Linked DNA regions of Homo sapiens: region 2 is linked to region 1. A link means that fine-mapping ties the variant in region 1 to the expression of a gene that starts in the linked region. Tissue or cell type: whole blood. Region 1 holds a variant in brackets; the other region holds the start of a gene. All regions are shown on one strand. Distances are from middle to middle.

What was found. PIP is the estimated chance that this variant, and not a neighbour inherited with it, causes the effect.
Region 2: it holds the start of HES1, and the variant in region 1 is fine-mapped to the expression of HES1 in whole blood (INTERVAL, PIP above 0.99).

What each region holds. Positions count from the first base shown.
Region 1 is chr3:194,159,352-194,166,215 of GRCh38, reverse strand. It overlaps LOC107986172 (a long non-coding RNA gene), which reads left to right and starts at 3,931. Exons shown (of 3, transcript XR_001741081.2): 1 at 3,931-4,068; 2 at 5,321-5,434; 3 at 6,396-6,421. RefSeq lists an enhancer at 4,301-5,232. The variant CT/T (reference allele first, on the strand shown) is at 3,714.
Region 2 is chr3:194,132,451-194,139,314 of GRCh38, reverse strand. It overlaps HES1 (hes family bHLH transcription factor 1), which reads right to left and starts at 3,167. Exons shown (of 4, transcript NM_005524.4): 1 at 2,827-3,167; 2 at 2,603-2,698; 3 at 2,267-2,354; 4 at 583-1,632. The coding sequence starts at 2,934. The coding sequence ends at 1,082. RefSeq lists enhancers at 1,054-1,243, 3,041-3,200, 2,010-3,209 and silencers at 1,274-1,473, 4,200-4,739, 4,810-5,089.

The sequences.
Region 1 (6,864 bases):
GCTCTCTTACTTCCTCTTCTCCTACCCTGGCTTCTTCCCATTGGAATGCAGCTAGTTTCTTGACTTTTGGTGAATACTAGGAGTTTCCCAGGAGACATTGTCAGAGACTAGATGGAGGTTACTCCAAGGTACAGTGGATTAAATGCTGCACTGGATGGAGGTGGGACCAGAAGACCCCTAGGACTCCTCTAGCTCTAAGGTCCTGTGGACCAGTCTTTCAATTCTACCCCAAAGGGCCACTTACAGTTCAGAAGCAACTGATACAAGCCTCAGGAAATTAGACTTAGATAGATATTGACCCCCTCCTCTCACCCAGATGATCAAATGGCAGGTGTGGACACTTGTAAGGACAGCAGTGCCTTGTAAGTTAGTCGGGCCGGATGTTGAGTGACGATTGTGGGCAATGCTGGGCTAGATGATGTTGAAACAAAACAAACATGCAGACAAAAACCCTTCTCTTTCTCTTTGAGTAGCGTCTCTTTAGCGAGACCATGACTCTGAGCTCCTAGATGACATACTACATCTATTTTTTAATATTAAATTTTATTGAGGTGTGATTGGCATGAAATAAACTGCACATAAAGTATGCAAGTGATAAGTTTGGCCTATGTGTACAACTGTAAAACCCTCACCACAATCAAAACAGTGGATATATCCCTTCCCTCAAAAGTTTCCTCACATCCCTTTAGGATCCTTTCTGCCTCTCTGGCACCCTATCTTCCCTCCCCCAGTCTCTAGGCAACAGCTAATTTGCCTTATGTCATTGTAGATTAGTTTGCATTTTGGAGAATTGTAAAAGAACGGAGTCATAGAGGACATATTCTTCTTTTTCTGGCCTTTTTTACTGAGCATAATTATTTTGAGATCCATCCATGTTGTTGCATTTATCTGTAGTTTATTTCATTGTATTCCTACATAGTAATCCATCGGATGGATAATATCACACTTTGTTTATCCATTCACTTATTGATAGACATTTGCATTGTTCCAGTTTTTGACTGTTACAAATAAAGCTGCCTTGAATATTTTATGTACAAGTCTTTTGTATCGACATATGCTTTCAGTTCTCTTGGGTAAATACCTATGAATGAAACGGCTGGATCACATGTTAGGCATATGTTTAACTTCTTCAGAAATCATTTCTTGAAATAGTTTGTACCATTTTATATTCCAACCGGCGGTATGTGAGAATTCTAGTTACTTCACATCTTTGCCAATGCTTGGCATGGTTAGTCTTTTCAGTTTTAAACAGTCTGGTGTGTGTGTGTGGTGGGTTCGTATCTCATTATGATTTCAATTGCATTTTCCAAATGACCAATGGTATACATCTTTTCATGTGCTTATTTGCCATCATATTATTTTGGGATGAAGGGTCTGTTGAAATCTTTTGTCCATTTTTTAATTGGTTTGCTTTTTTTATTATTGAGTTTGCAAGTTCTTCATATAATCCGGATACAATTCCCTTATCAGATTTGTGATTTGCTAATATTTTCTCCATTTATTTTCTTTTTCTCCAAAGTTTTTTATTCTCAAGGCAGTGTCTTTTGAAGAGAAGGTCTTAATTTTTTTTAAGGGATGGGGTTTGCTATGTTGCCCAGGCTGGAGTGCAGTGGCTATTCACAGGAACAATCTCGCTACTGATCAGCATGAACGTTTTGATCTCTCCATTTCCAATCTGGGCAGATTCACCTCTCCTAGGGCGACCTGGTGGTCCCCCTCTCCCAGAAGTTCACTATATTGATGCTGAACTTAATGCAGACGCCCTTTACAAGGCTGTATTTTAAACCACACCAGTGTTCAGTTCCTTAGCAAGACGATTCAGAGACAAATACCAGCACTATTAATTATACCTTTATTTAGAAGTGCAGTATCTTGAAAGACAAGTGTTTGAGTAACTTGGAAGAAAAGAAGACTGAAAGGAGGAAAGCCACATTTTATGGAAGAGATGAAATTTATTGGTACAATTTAGATAAGTCAGGAGTAGATAGAACCTGAGTAAGCACCTAGAGAGAATATGTAAAGTTTGTTTAGCAAGAATTCCAATTAAGTTGTAAGAAAGGGTGCATAAGGAATAAAATGGAGATAAAGCAAAAGATCTTGAAATAGAGGTTGAAGAGTTTGTGCTTAATTCTCAAGGCACTAGACAGCCATGAGGTTTTTACTTAAGAGGGAGGGGGTTGCTGCAGGAGTTGAAATGATGGCACTAACTAAACTACTGAATGCTCACATGCGTTTACCGACCCAATCTCCTACCTGCTTGCTCTTGGAGTCAGGAGGAGGAAAGGGAGGAGGGAGGAAGAGATGAAGGGAGGGCTAGGACTTGTGGGAGAGGCTGACTGGCAGCAGGGCTTTAATTTCAATGGAATGTTTTCACGGGCATCGCCTTTCCCTTCCTGGTTGGGTGGATGAGCAGAGGTTCCTTGGGAATGTTTTTCTTGGGCACTTTTATAGGGTTTCAGCTAAAAACACAGGATATTGGTATGCATCTTCACGGTTTAGGTTAAATTGCAGTTTGCCCCCAAAACTTCCTTGAGGTTACATTTTATTCAACCCTTTTCGCCGTTCAAATGCCTACCAAACAGAGATTTATAGAAGAGGCTGAAGCTGGGAAGAGCCTCAAGAGACCATCCAAACCATCCTGTCCTCTTACACTCACTGTTCTATGAAGAAGTTAGGGTGAGAGGGGGTAGCTCAATTCCAATAATGTGAATCTGATGACACCACTTACCTCTATACAATCCTTTCATGGAAACCCCAAATCTTTTCATTTTATTTTATTTTTTTGAGATAGGGTCTTTCTCTGTTGCCCAGGCTAGAATGCAGTGGCATGATCATGGCTCACTGCGGCCTTAACCTCCTGGGGTCAAGCAATTCTCCTGCCTCAGCTTCTCCAGTAGCTGGGACTATAGGCGCACACCACTACACTCGGCTAATCTTTGTATTTTTTTGTGGAGATGGGGTTTTACCATGTTGCCCAGGCTGTTCTTGAACACCTGGGCTCAAGTGATCCTCCTGCCTCAGCCTCCGAAAGTGCTGGGATTACAGGCATGAGCCAACTGTGCCCGGCCTCAACCCAATATCTTTACCTAGAGTGATCATATATCCTGGTTTGCCCAGAATAGTCCTGGTTCTTGTTTTTTTCCCCAGGGTTTAATTATTGGTAATAACCCCTTTCACTCCCTAAAGTGAACCAGTTACATAATAAATTTTATGGTCACCTAAGTAATGCTTTCCAACTGATGCACCCCAGTGTGAAGACTGACGTCAGAAGTGGGTTGTCTCTGAGTTGCTGGGAGAGGGCTGTAAGCTCTTCTATGCATATATAGTTTCTCAATCAGCAGAGAGAAAAGTAAAACTATGACAGGTTGAGTATCCTGAATCCAAAAATTTCAAATCTGAAATGCTCCAAAATCTAAAACATTCTGAGCACCAACATAACTCTCAAAGGAAATATCATTGGAACATTTTGGATTTCTGATTTTTGAATTAGGAATAATCAACTGTAAGCATAATGCAGATATTCCAAATTCTGAAAAAATGTGAAATCCACAACACTTCTGGTCCCAAGCATTTAGGATAAAAGATACTCAAGCTGCACATTTTAAGAGTCTAAGAGGAATGCTGGAGGGAAGGATAGCGATTGTTGAAAGTAGGCACGCACCGTCTGCAGACTCAGCACTCCTCACCCAGCCTGCGGCCCCACAACTCACCGC[CT/T]AGCCCTTCCCACTATTTTTAGAGGCAAAGTCTTGCTCTGTCACCCAGGCTGGCGTGCAGGGGGACGATCCTAGCTCACTGCAGCCTTGAACTCCTGGGCTCAAATGATCTTCCCGCCTCAGCCTCCTGGATAGCTGGGACTAGTGGGAAGCATGTGCCACTATGCCTGGCTATTTTTATTTGATTATAGAGATGGGGTCTCACTATGCTGCCTCCTTCTTTACGGTCCAGCCACCAGAAGCAGTTCCTGGTCTCCTGACTCTACTGTGTCACTTCAGGGCTTTGGAACATGCTTTCCCTCTGCTGGAAGACATCTGCAGCCACCTCATCTCCCTCTTCCTTCAGTGCTCTGAGGTATTTCCCCTTGACATCCTCCCCAGGTGTCCCCCAAACCCCCAAACCATGGGACAGAGCCGGGATCTCCCCACTCTGAGCTGCTCTGACCTCCCCTTTCTTTTCTGTCCTGGTGCCCATTAATACTCTACATTGGCTGTGTGAGTGTACGTGCAAGTCTCCCTCCTGGACTGTGAGCAACTAGCGGGCAGGGCTGTCCCCCAACCCCGAGCACAGTGACTGGCATAAGGAGAGGATGCCCACACATACTGTCAAGTACACTCATTCGGTGGATATTTATTGAGCATTAGCTTTGCTCCAAGCACCACACAGCAGGGGACACTGCAGTGCACCAATGTCCCTATACCTGGAGAGCTGCAGCTGAACCCATGAATGGGGCAGTGTGAGTGTGTGGACAGGTCAATACATCATGAATGTGTGTCCATATGTATCCGTGTCTGTTCAAGGAGTTTGCTAGAACCTGCGTTCCTCTCAGGAAGACAGAATGCTTCAAAACAAATCAGTTTTTTTCTTTGTAGTTTCTTTGTGAATTAAGCAGCATAAACCTCTGATCTATGTAAAAACAGGGAAAGGGAAGTCTAGGGAGGCTAAAATAACTTTATCAACGTCGCTGAGTTGAGTGGCTAGTCCCCTGAGGGAGAAGCCTTGTGCCTTGGATCCCAGCTCAGCCGGGGGCAGCCGTGGCCCCGGCACAGCCTGATCTTACCGTGCGTGCCTGGGCGCAGCTCCTTCACCTGGGGGCTTGGGGTTCCTCCCTACTGCTTCTCACCACTGAATGTTTGTGAAAGGCAGGGCTGTGTTTGCGCCTGTAGCCAGGCAGGGGCTCTTTCCCAGAAGCTGGTCCAAGGCCACAGAGGCTGAGCAGAAACCCATGTGCTGTTTGTTGTGAGGCAGGCTCTGTTCTCAGGGATTTATTTGTGAAATTCCTGGAGTGGGGAGGAAGACCTACAGCTTGGCAGAAGTAAATGCCAGGTCCTGAGAAGCTTGGCAAATGGAGAAGGAGAGAAAGGAGTATGGGGTGGGGGGTGGAGAGGGAGGTGGAGAGAGAGAGAGAGAGATACTCAGGCTGAGCCCTGGGATCAGGCTTTGAAGACAGAAAAGATTCTAACTTTTTGCCCTCAAAAGACTGTAAATCAGTCTCATTCTCTCCACACCCACTGCTACACACTCACCTTAATTCATCTCTGCCTTTAACCTTTGACCAATTCTCCTCACCCTAGCTCAGAGATAACTTTCTTCTTCTTTTGTTCAGAGGTTGTAACAGCTTTGGGACGCTCTGGGATCCCTGTTCCACTTTGCCTTTCCCTGCCTTCATCACCCCCTTAATTATGGACATGAACAGTCTTCAGGTCAAAGAAAAATGTGGGTAAGATGTGGCCTCCCCAAGGACTGAAGGCAAAGGCCAGCACCCCAGAGGGAGGCATCACTCTCCAGGACAGGCCGGGGATGGCGGGAGCGCCTCACTCCAGCAGAAGTGAGGGCCTGGCTTGCTCTGTCAGTGGCCCGGAGAGCTCGCCTTACCTCCCTGGAGCATGGGTTAGATTCCAGAACTGCCTCTCCCAGTTCATAGCAAGTACAGAGAGCCATAGTGAGGGGCAGGAGGTGCTTGGAGGTGCAGAGAACAGGTTACCTGTCGCTGTCAGGTAAACCTGAATCCTGAAGCCCAGATCACTCAGCTACTGTCTGAGTCTGCCAGGGGCCTCCCTCCAACACACCCCAAACCTTCTCCCCGTCCCAGTGCAGCTTTCTGCTGTGGTTTCAGTCCTCAGCGGGTCAGCCAGTGCCGCCTCCACTTGTCCTGATCACACTGGCCCTTCCACTCCAGAGGTCATTTGCCTCCTCAGAGGGCCCCATGCACCCAAATGTACTTGAGTATAAGGTGGCCAGAGTGGCTGAAGATGTTTTACCTGGACAGGGAAGGGAGGGCACTCCTGTGAGCCAGGCCAGGGGGAGATGTAAGGGGTGAGGAATCACAAATTTAATTTCAAAAGACTGAAGCTGAGACGTGACAGGGCACTCCTGCACAGAAACTCCCCTCCTTCCTCACTCTAGGAAATCTGGAGAAAATCCAGAAAGTGGGTGGCAGCTGCAGAGGGATCCACACATAGTGGAATAGGGCCTTCCTATCTCCAGAGCTGGAGAGCTGTCTCTTTTGTGTTTTGAGACAGGGCCTCGCTCTGTCACCCAGGCTAGAGTGCAGTGGCGCGATCTTGGCTCACTGCAGCCTGGGCTCAAGCAATCTGCCCACCTCAGCCTCCCGAGTAGCTGGGAATACAGGTGCGTGCCACCAGGCCCAGCTAATTGCTCATTTTTTTGTATTTTTGTAGAGATGGAGTTTCCCCATGTTGCCCAGGTTCGTCTAGAACTCCTGGACTCAAGTGATTTGCCTGCTTCGGCCTCCCAAAGTACTGGGATTACAGGTGTGAGCCACTGCACCCGGCCTGGAGAGCTGTCTTTAGGGTGGTAGCTGAATGTCATATTCCTGGACAGACCTGACCGCATGGAATGGCACAGTCTCTGGGACCCCTGCCTGCCTTTTCTTTCTCCCTCTCCACTTAGAAACTTCACCCCAGACTGGGTTCAGGAATAGGGCTTGGTACCCAATATAGGGCCTAGTATACAGTAGGTGCTAAAGGTGTTCACTGAATGAATGATTAAAACATGAACCAGTCAGGGAGGAGACAAAAGAGGTAGGACTCAGGACTGGGCAGAGACTGGGGACACGGGTGGATAAATGGTAGAGGCTTAAAGGGGTTCTGTGTCTTGGGACAGAACATATATGCCTGTGACTCATGA
Region 2 (6,864 bases), 27 kb after region 1:
TGTGTGCCTGCCAGCACAGCCCCCACATGCTTTCTCTATTAGAGCCAAGCACAGAAACTTATCAAAAACACATGTCTGGTGTTAATCATCTGGGCTCGGCCTCCACTTGGGAGTCTAACTAACTGTCCCTTGGCAGAAGGAATCTGTTGACCTTTTCAGCTTGCTTTAAGAGGGTGCGGAGAGGAAACTTTTGGGTGCTAGGGAACGTCTTATTTGAACCAAAGGATTGGCTAATTAATGAAGACCCCAAGTCTTGAAGGAGGCGCAGCAGTTGGAAGTGTTTTTGCTTTGGATGCTGGTGAGCTACCCTGAGAGGAGAGCTGCAGGAACCACCCTTAACGTGCAATGGGCAATAGGATTGGATCCATTAGCTTCGTGAATTTAGTCCTGTTCAATCTTCCTCAGGAGGAGCTAGAAGAACAAGGGCTGCAGACTTACCCGACTGCAACTTAAAAACATTTTTTTTGGAAATCCTTTAAGAGACTGACCACAAGTTTATCAGGGAAGCCTTACCAGATGGCTGCTTGTAAAGTAAATGGAATTTAGTCTTTTTAGTTCATGGAGGATTGGTGAAAAGTTTGATGGATTTTTACAAATGTTCTTTTAATAACAAAAGAGTCAATTCCTGAATTACCAATTACATGTAATTCAAATTCCACCAAAAGCCTTTTTACATATTCTGGAAGAATCAGTTCGAAGACATAAAAGCCTTTACTTTTTTCTTTTATTATATTTTCTCAAATAAACTTCCCCAAAGGAAGATATTTTAAGAGCATTTTCAAACATCTTTGGCATCACATAAAAAAGAAATCTCGTGTAAAAAACGAAATGTCATCTGAGCTTTTATAATACAAAGGCGCAATCCAATATGAACATATAAAATATATACAAATATAGTGCATGGTCAGTCACTTAATACAGCTCTCTCTACAAAAAGTAACTTCTTAGAAATTAAAAAAACACAAAGTAACCACTTAATCAAAAAAGTCCTCTTCTCTCCCAGTATTCAAGTTCCTGTTTAGAGTCCGGAGGGAAGAGAGGTGGGTTGGGGAGTTTAGGAGGAGGGGTGGCCTGAGCCCCCTCAGTTCCGCCACGGCCTCCACATGGAGTCCGCCGTAAGCGAGGGGCCGCTGGAAGGTGACACTGCGTTGGGGCCCACGGAGGTGCCGCTGTTGCTGGTGTAGACGGGGATGACAGGGCCGCTGTGCGCGAAGGCCCCGTTGGGAATGAGGAAAGCAAACTGGCCATCGGGAGCCGGTACCACCTGGAAGCCTCCAAACACCTTAGCCGCCTCTCCAGCCTGGCTGCCCAGCTTGCAGGGGGCGCCGCCGGGAGGGGGCGCCGCGCCCCCGGGGATGGGCACGAGTGGCGGCGGCGGCGCGAACGGCGCGTGCTGGGGGCCGCCGGGTCCCGGTGGGGGCGGTGGCGGCGCCTGCAAGGCGGGGTGCGGCTGCCCGGGGTAGGTCATGGCATTGATCTGGGTCATGCAGTTGGCCAGGTGGCCGAGCAGCCGAGTGCGCACCTCGGTATTAACGCCCTCGCACGTGGACAGGAAGCGGGTCACCTCGTTCATGCACTCGCTGAAGCCGGCTCGGTACTTCCCCAGCACACTTGGGTCTGTGCTCAGCGCAGCTGCGGGCCAGAAAGAGACAGACGGGTCACCGAACGGCCCTGGCCCCGTGGCCACTGCCTCCGCCCTGGGAGGTCCCTGTGGCGCGCCTCCCTGACCATGCGCCCGTGAAACTGCCTCCGGCAGGGAGGGTGAGATGGGTTTAGAAAAAACCAGCCACCTCTCCACACTAGCGTTGCTGCCAAAAGCCGAGCCACTCCTTCCCGATTCCCTGTAGCTGCATTTAAACCTATCTCAGCCCCAGATCTGTCACCCCCACCCCCGCGCGCGATGTGACCTTGGACAATGCCTCCCAATCCATCATCCAAGCCTCATTTCCCCTTCTGCAACGGGAAGGAGTGCTAAACCAGTGACCCCCAGGCTCCACGCAGTTCCAAACCGCCACAGTCCTAAGTCCTTTCGCCCCTACCCGGCGCCCGCCACCCTCGCGGCTGCAACCTCTTTCCCTCCCTTTCCGGAACAGTAACAACTTGGAGTTGTGGCTATAAATAAGCCCCAGACCGTGGGAACGCAAGAGTGAGCCAAGGCAGTAAAATGTAGCTGAATGCCTCTCACAACCACGGGCGGAAGTCTGGAAGAAATCACCGCGAGGCGAGCGGGACGCCCGCACAGGGGGACGCGGCGAGCCGCCCTCACCCGTCATCTGCGCCCGCTGCAGGTTCCGGAGGTGCTTCACTGTCATTTCCAGAATGTCCGCCTTCTCCAGCTTGGAATGCCGCGAGCTCTGCATAGAGTAGGCAAGAAAGGAAAGTGAGCCCCGTGTCAGCTGCTTCAGAGTGCTGGGGGTCCCTCCTCCCGGCCACGGAGCGCAAGCATTATCTCTGGACCCCAGCGAATAAGGCCGGGCCCTCCCGCCTGGGAGAACGCAGTACCAGCGAGTGCCAGACCCCGCAGGGCGGGGGGTTTCACTCTTAGTAGCTGAGAAAGTGTTTGTTTTTTAATTAAAAGAGCGAGCAGCATTTCCCCACTTACATCTTTCTTCAGAGCATCCAAAATCAGTGTTTTCAGCTGGCTCAGACTTTCATTTATTCTTGCTCTTCGTCTTTTCTCCATAATAGGCTTTGATGACTGCAAATAAAAAAAAGAGTTCTGTGTTCCCATGGAATCTGCCATCCCGGGGTTTCAAGACAGAAAGAAGCCCCCCAACCCCTACTTAATTTTGAGGGGCTGCAAAGAGATACAGGTACCGCCCTTACCTTTCTGTGCTCAGATGCTGTCTTTGGTTTATCCGGTGTCGTGTTGACACTGGCTGGGGTAGCAGCCACCGGGGACGAGGAATTTTTCTCCATTATATCAGCTGGCATTTTCCTTTTTTTTTTTTTTTTATCTCTAGAGAATTTTATTTTTGGAGTTCTTCACGAAAAAGAATTTTTTGTTTGTGTCTCTTTTACTTGAGACTTTCACAAAACTACTGAGCAAGTGCTGAGGGTTTATTATATTTTGTGGCTACTTGGTGATCAGTAGCGCTGTTCCAGGACCAAGGAGAGAGGTAGACGGGGGATTCCGCTGTTATCAGCACCAGCTCCGGATCCTGTGTGATCCCTAGGCCCTGGCGGCCTCTATATATATCTGGGACTGCACGCGAACGGCTCGTGTGAAACTTCCCAAACTTTCTTTCCCACAGTAACTTTCAGCCAATGGGAGGAGGAGACACGCGGCACCGCTCGTGGACCGCGCCCCCCCATTGGCCGCCAGGCACAAGGTCTGGCGGCCAATGGCGCGCGCCTGAGCCCAGGGCACCGGAGGCTACAACGTCAATCAAAAGGATTTTAACCCTTTGCTACTCTCCCTCTGGGCTTTGGTTTAGAGATTTTTTTTTTCTTTCCGCTTTGGTCTTGATCTTGTCTATTTCTTTTGGAGCCAGGGTCTTTGCTCTTTATGCCCTCTCTCATATGTAACAGAGCTGCTTTGACTGTAGTAAGTTCATTTGAAACATATTTTTTTTAAAGGTATAAACAATAAAGAAAAAAACAGCAGTGGTTAAAAGGGGGCGGGGGGAGGGGGGGACGGGTGTAAGAATGTGAGTTACCGACACATCTAAAGTTCCCGCTCAGACTTTACATTCAGGAGGGTGAAAGTAGATGGTAAAGGAAAAGGGCCAAAAAAATTTTCCTGTTTCCATGCAGAAAAAGGAAAAATTGCCTTCTACCTCACAAATGCAGGTTTTTCGGAGCAAGGTAGTTCTTGAATCCCACCCCCACCCCGTCTTTCAGAAATTCCTCGTTTGGATTTGGGGCCTTAGACCCCGGGCTTCCCCAGGAAACAATCAGAATAATTTCCAACTGGGTGGAAGGAAACGGTATTTCAAATGAAAAAATGAACAAGGGGGGCTCCGAGGGCAATGACTCAGGGACTCGCGCCCTCCTTCACCACCCTTTCCCTTTTCATCCGTAGGCTTTAGGTTCTGCGGCGCGTTGAGGTGGCGGGCAAGGAAGCAGCCTCTCCCTCCTCGCCCCGCGGGCGGCCTCGGCCCCCGGCGCCCGCGGGCCCTTTAAGAGCTACACCAGCCGAGCTGCAGTTTGACATCAGCCGGCCGGCGTGGGCGCGCCTGGAGCCGGAGCACGTGCCAGGATGTTTTATTGCCGCCGCGGCTGCGGCCGGGCCGGGAGGATGTGTGTGTGCGTGCGTGTGTGAGTGAGTGTGTGTGCGCGCGCCCCGGGGGCAGGGAGGCGGGGGGCGGCGACGGGCGGCGGAGAGCGGGGGCCGGTTCCTGGTCCCCGGGAGAAGCCAAGAAGGTAAATAGCAGCTGCTGTGCTCGAGCCTGGGAAAACCCCGCCCCCTGCGCCTGGCCCGGGCTCATTGGCGCGCGCTGCGTGTGGGGGGTGTGTGTGTGTGTGTGTCCGGGGCCCCCTCCTCCGGCCCCGCCGGGCCAGGAATCCGAGGGGGCGGCGGGCTGGGAGCCGAGCCCCGGCGCTTACCCTCTCTCCCCACCCCCGCCTCCCCAGGCCAAGGTCAGCTCTTCCCGGCGGGGAGCGCACACCCGGGGTGGAGAGTGGGGAATTCTTCCAACCCCCGCCTCCCCACCCTCACTTTCGGGCTTGGGGTTTTCACTCGGCCGAAAGCCGCATTCGCAACAGCCCGGGGGCGAGGTGGGGGCCTCCAAGTTTGCTCCTCGCCCCCGCCCTCTCCCCGCGGGGCCCTGGGCGCCCGCCGCGGTCACGGGATGCCTGACCGCACTTAGGAAGCGGCCGGGTCAGCCTCCTGCCTCCGCTCGGCGACTGCGGTTAAAGCGGCTTCGCGCCGCCCGCCCCTTCCCCGGGTCCCGGGCGGCCGGGCCGCTCCCCCTCACTACGCCCGGGAGGCCGCCGGCGGGCGCCCGGGAGGAGGCGGGCGGCGCGGGCGGCTGCGTGCTGCCTGCTGGCCGGGCCGCGCGCCGGGAGGAGTCGCCGCCGCCGCCGCCGGGTGCCACGTGGCGGGCGCCGGGCCGGGAGCGCCAGGGCTCTGGCGGCGGCCTCCCTGGGGGATTTGCCGAGCCGGGCGGGCGGCGCGCACTGCCTGGGCCGGCCGGCCGCCTCCTCCGCCTCCCTCCCGCCTGCCCGGGTCGCCGGCCCCCGTGCCCCCACCCCCCCTCCGCCCTTCCCGCCGCCTGGGAGCTCGGCTCGCGGCTCCGGGCAGCCCGGGAGCCCAGCGTCTTGTTTGATGTGGCCTCCCGCCCCCTCAGCCCTTCCCGCGTCCCGGAGGCCTGGCGCACGGTTCTCAGACACTTCATTCCTTCCGGCCTCCCAGCTCCCCACTGAGATAACGTTGTCAATGATTTCGCCAGATCTCGTCCCGGATGAGATTCAGTGGTTCCTGACTCTGGGTGACCTTGGGCAAGCCCCCCTCTCTCTTTCATTGTGGAACACACGCGCAGTGTCAGACACTGTGTTAAACCCTGGGATTTCCACGGTGAGAGATACAGTGGCGGCCTGCTAGAAGTTGACAGTAAACTGCGGGGGCAGACAGACGCTGATTTTCTGATTGATGACTGGACATTCCTTTATTTTTCCTTTCTTTTCTGAGTTAGGTGGTGGCTTGAGAGATCAGGAGGACAGAAACAAAATATGAAACCATACTTGTATGGATAACAGTATTGCTGGTCTACCTGGGTTTACAGCAGTGAGTAAGACCGTTATTGCTCTCTGGAAGCTAACAGTCTAGAGATACATATAAACGTGTACAGCTGACATCTACGGATGGCCCAGTAAATTCCTCTGGGAAGTCGTAGGTTCAAGAGAGACGTATGTCTGGATAGAGGTAAAATGCTATGGAGTTTCAGGAGAATTAAGTTACTTTTAAGTTGGGGTACCTTGGAAAACTTCCTGGAGGGATTGGCCTGTGTACCTTGAAAAATAGGTAGGATTGGGGCATTGGGAATGTGCTTAGTCGTGGGCTGGAGAGGATGCAGGTACCCATGGTATTAAAGGCCAAGATCCTGGAACTTGAAGACTTTATTCAGGGAACATGGTCTGGAGCCTAGGGAATGTGAGGGACTGGAAGAGGCAGCTTGAGGCCATGTCACAAGCTCCTTAAACATCTTGCTGAAGGACTTTGGACCTTATCTTTAGACAGTGGAGAGCCATGAAACATTCTTGAGCAAAGAAGAGGCATCAGGGTTTCCCTTTAGAAAGATGGCTCTGGCAAAAGTGGGAGAGTGGATTGCAGGGCTTGGAGGCAGAAAGGGCAGTTAGGCAGTTCAAGCCAGTGAAGAAGGTTCCTAGGAGGCAGGTGCAGACTGACTCCCAGAGGCATCTGTCTACATCCAGCTCCTCTGGACATTGACCGCACGCTCTTGGGAACTGAGTTCAACTCAAACCTGCCTACCCTTTAATGCAGTGTTCCCAACCCCCAACCAGGAACTCAGGAACTCAGATTTAATTCCTGAGTCTAACTAAGGAATCATGGCTCTGACCGTATTAACCTAAGCCTCATTTCCACCTTCCAGGATAGTCCTCCAGTCTGCAACCAAACATTTCCCTCATCGAAGGCTTTGGTTTACTCACTGTTGCCCCTAAGGCTACTCTGAGATTTTTTTTAAAAAATGTTTTCTTACACTGCAGAGTGAGCTGTGCCCTGTCATGTTCTGAAGAAATGATGAACAATGCCTCCTTTGTTGACCTGCAACCTGGGCCAAAGGGGAAGGAATTTTCTTTCTTATTTTAAACAGATGGAAAAGTGGTGATGACAGAAAATTGTCTGTTGCTTTTGGAAAACGTAGGGTTTTCCTGTGTGGTGAAAATCCTCTTGGTGAAAGG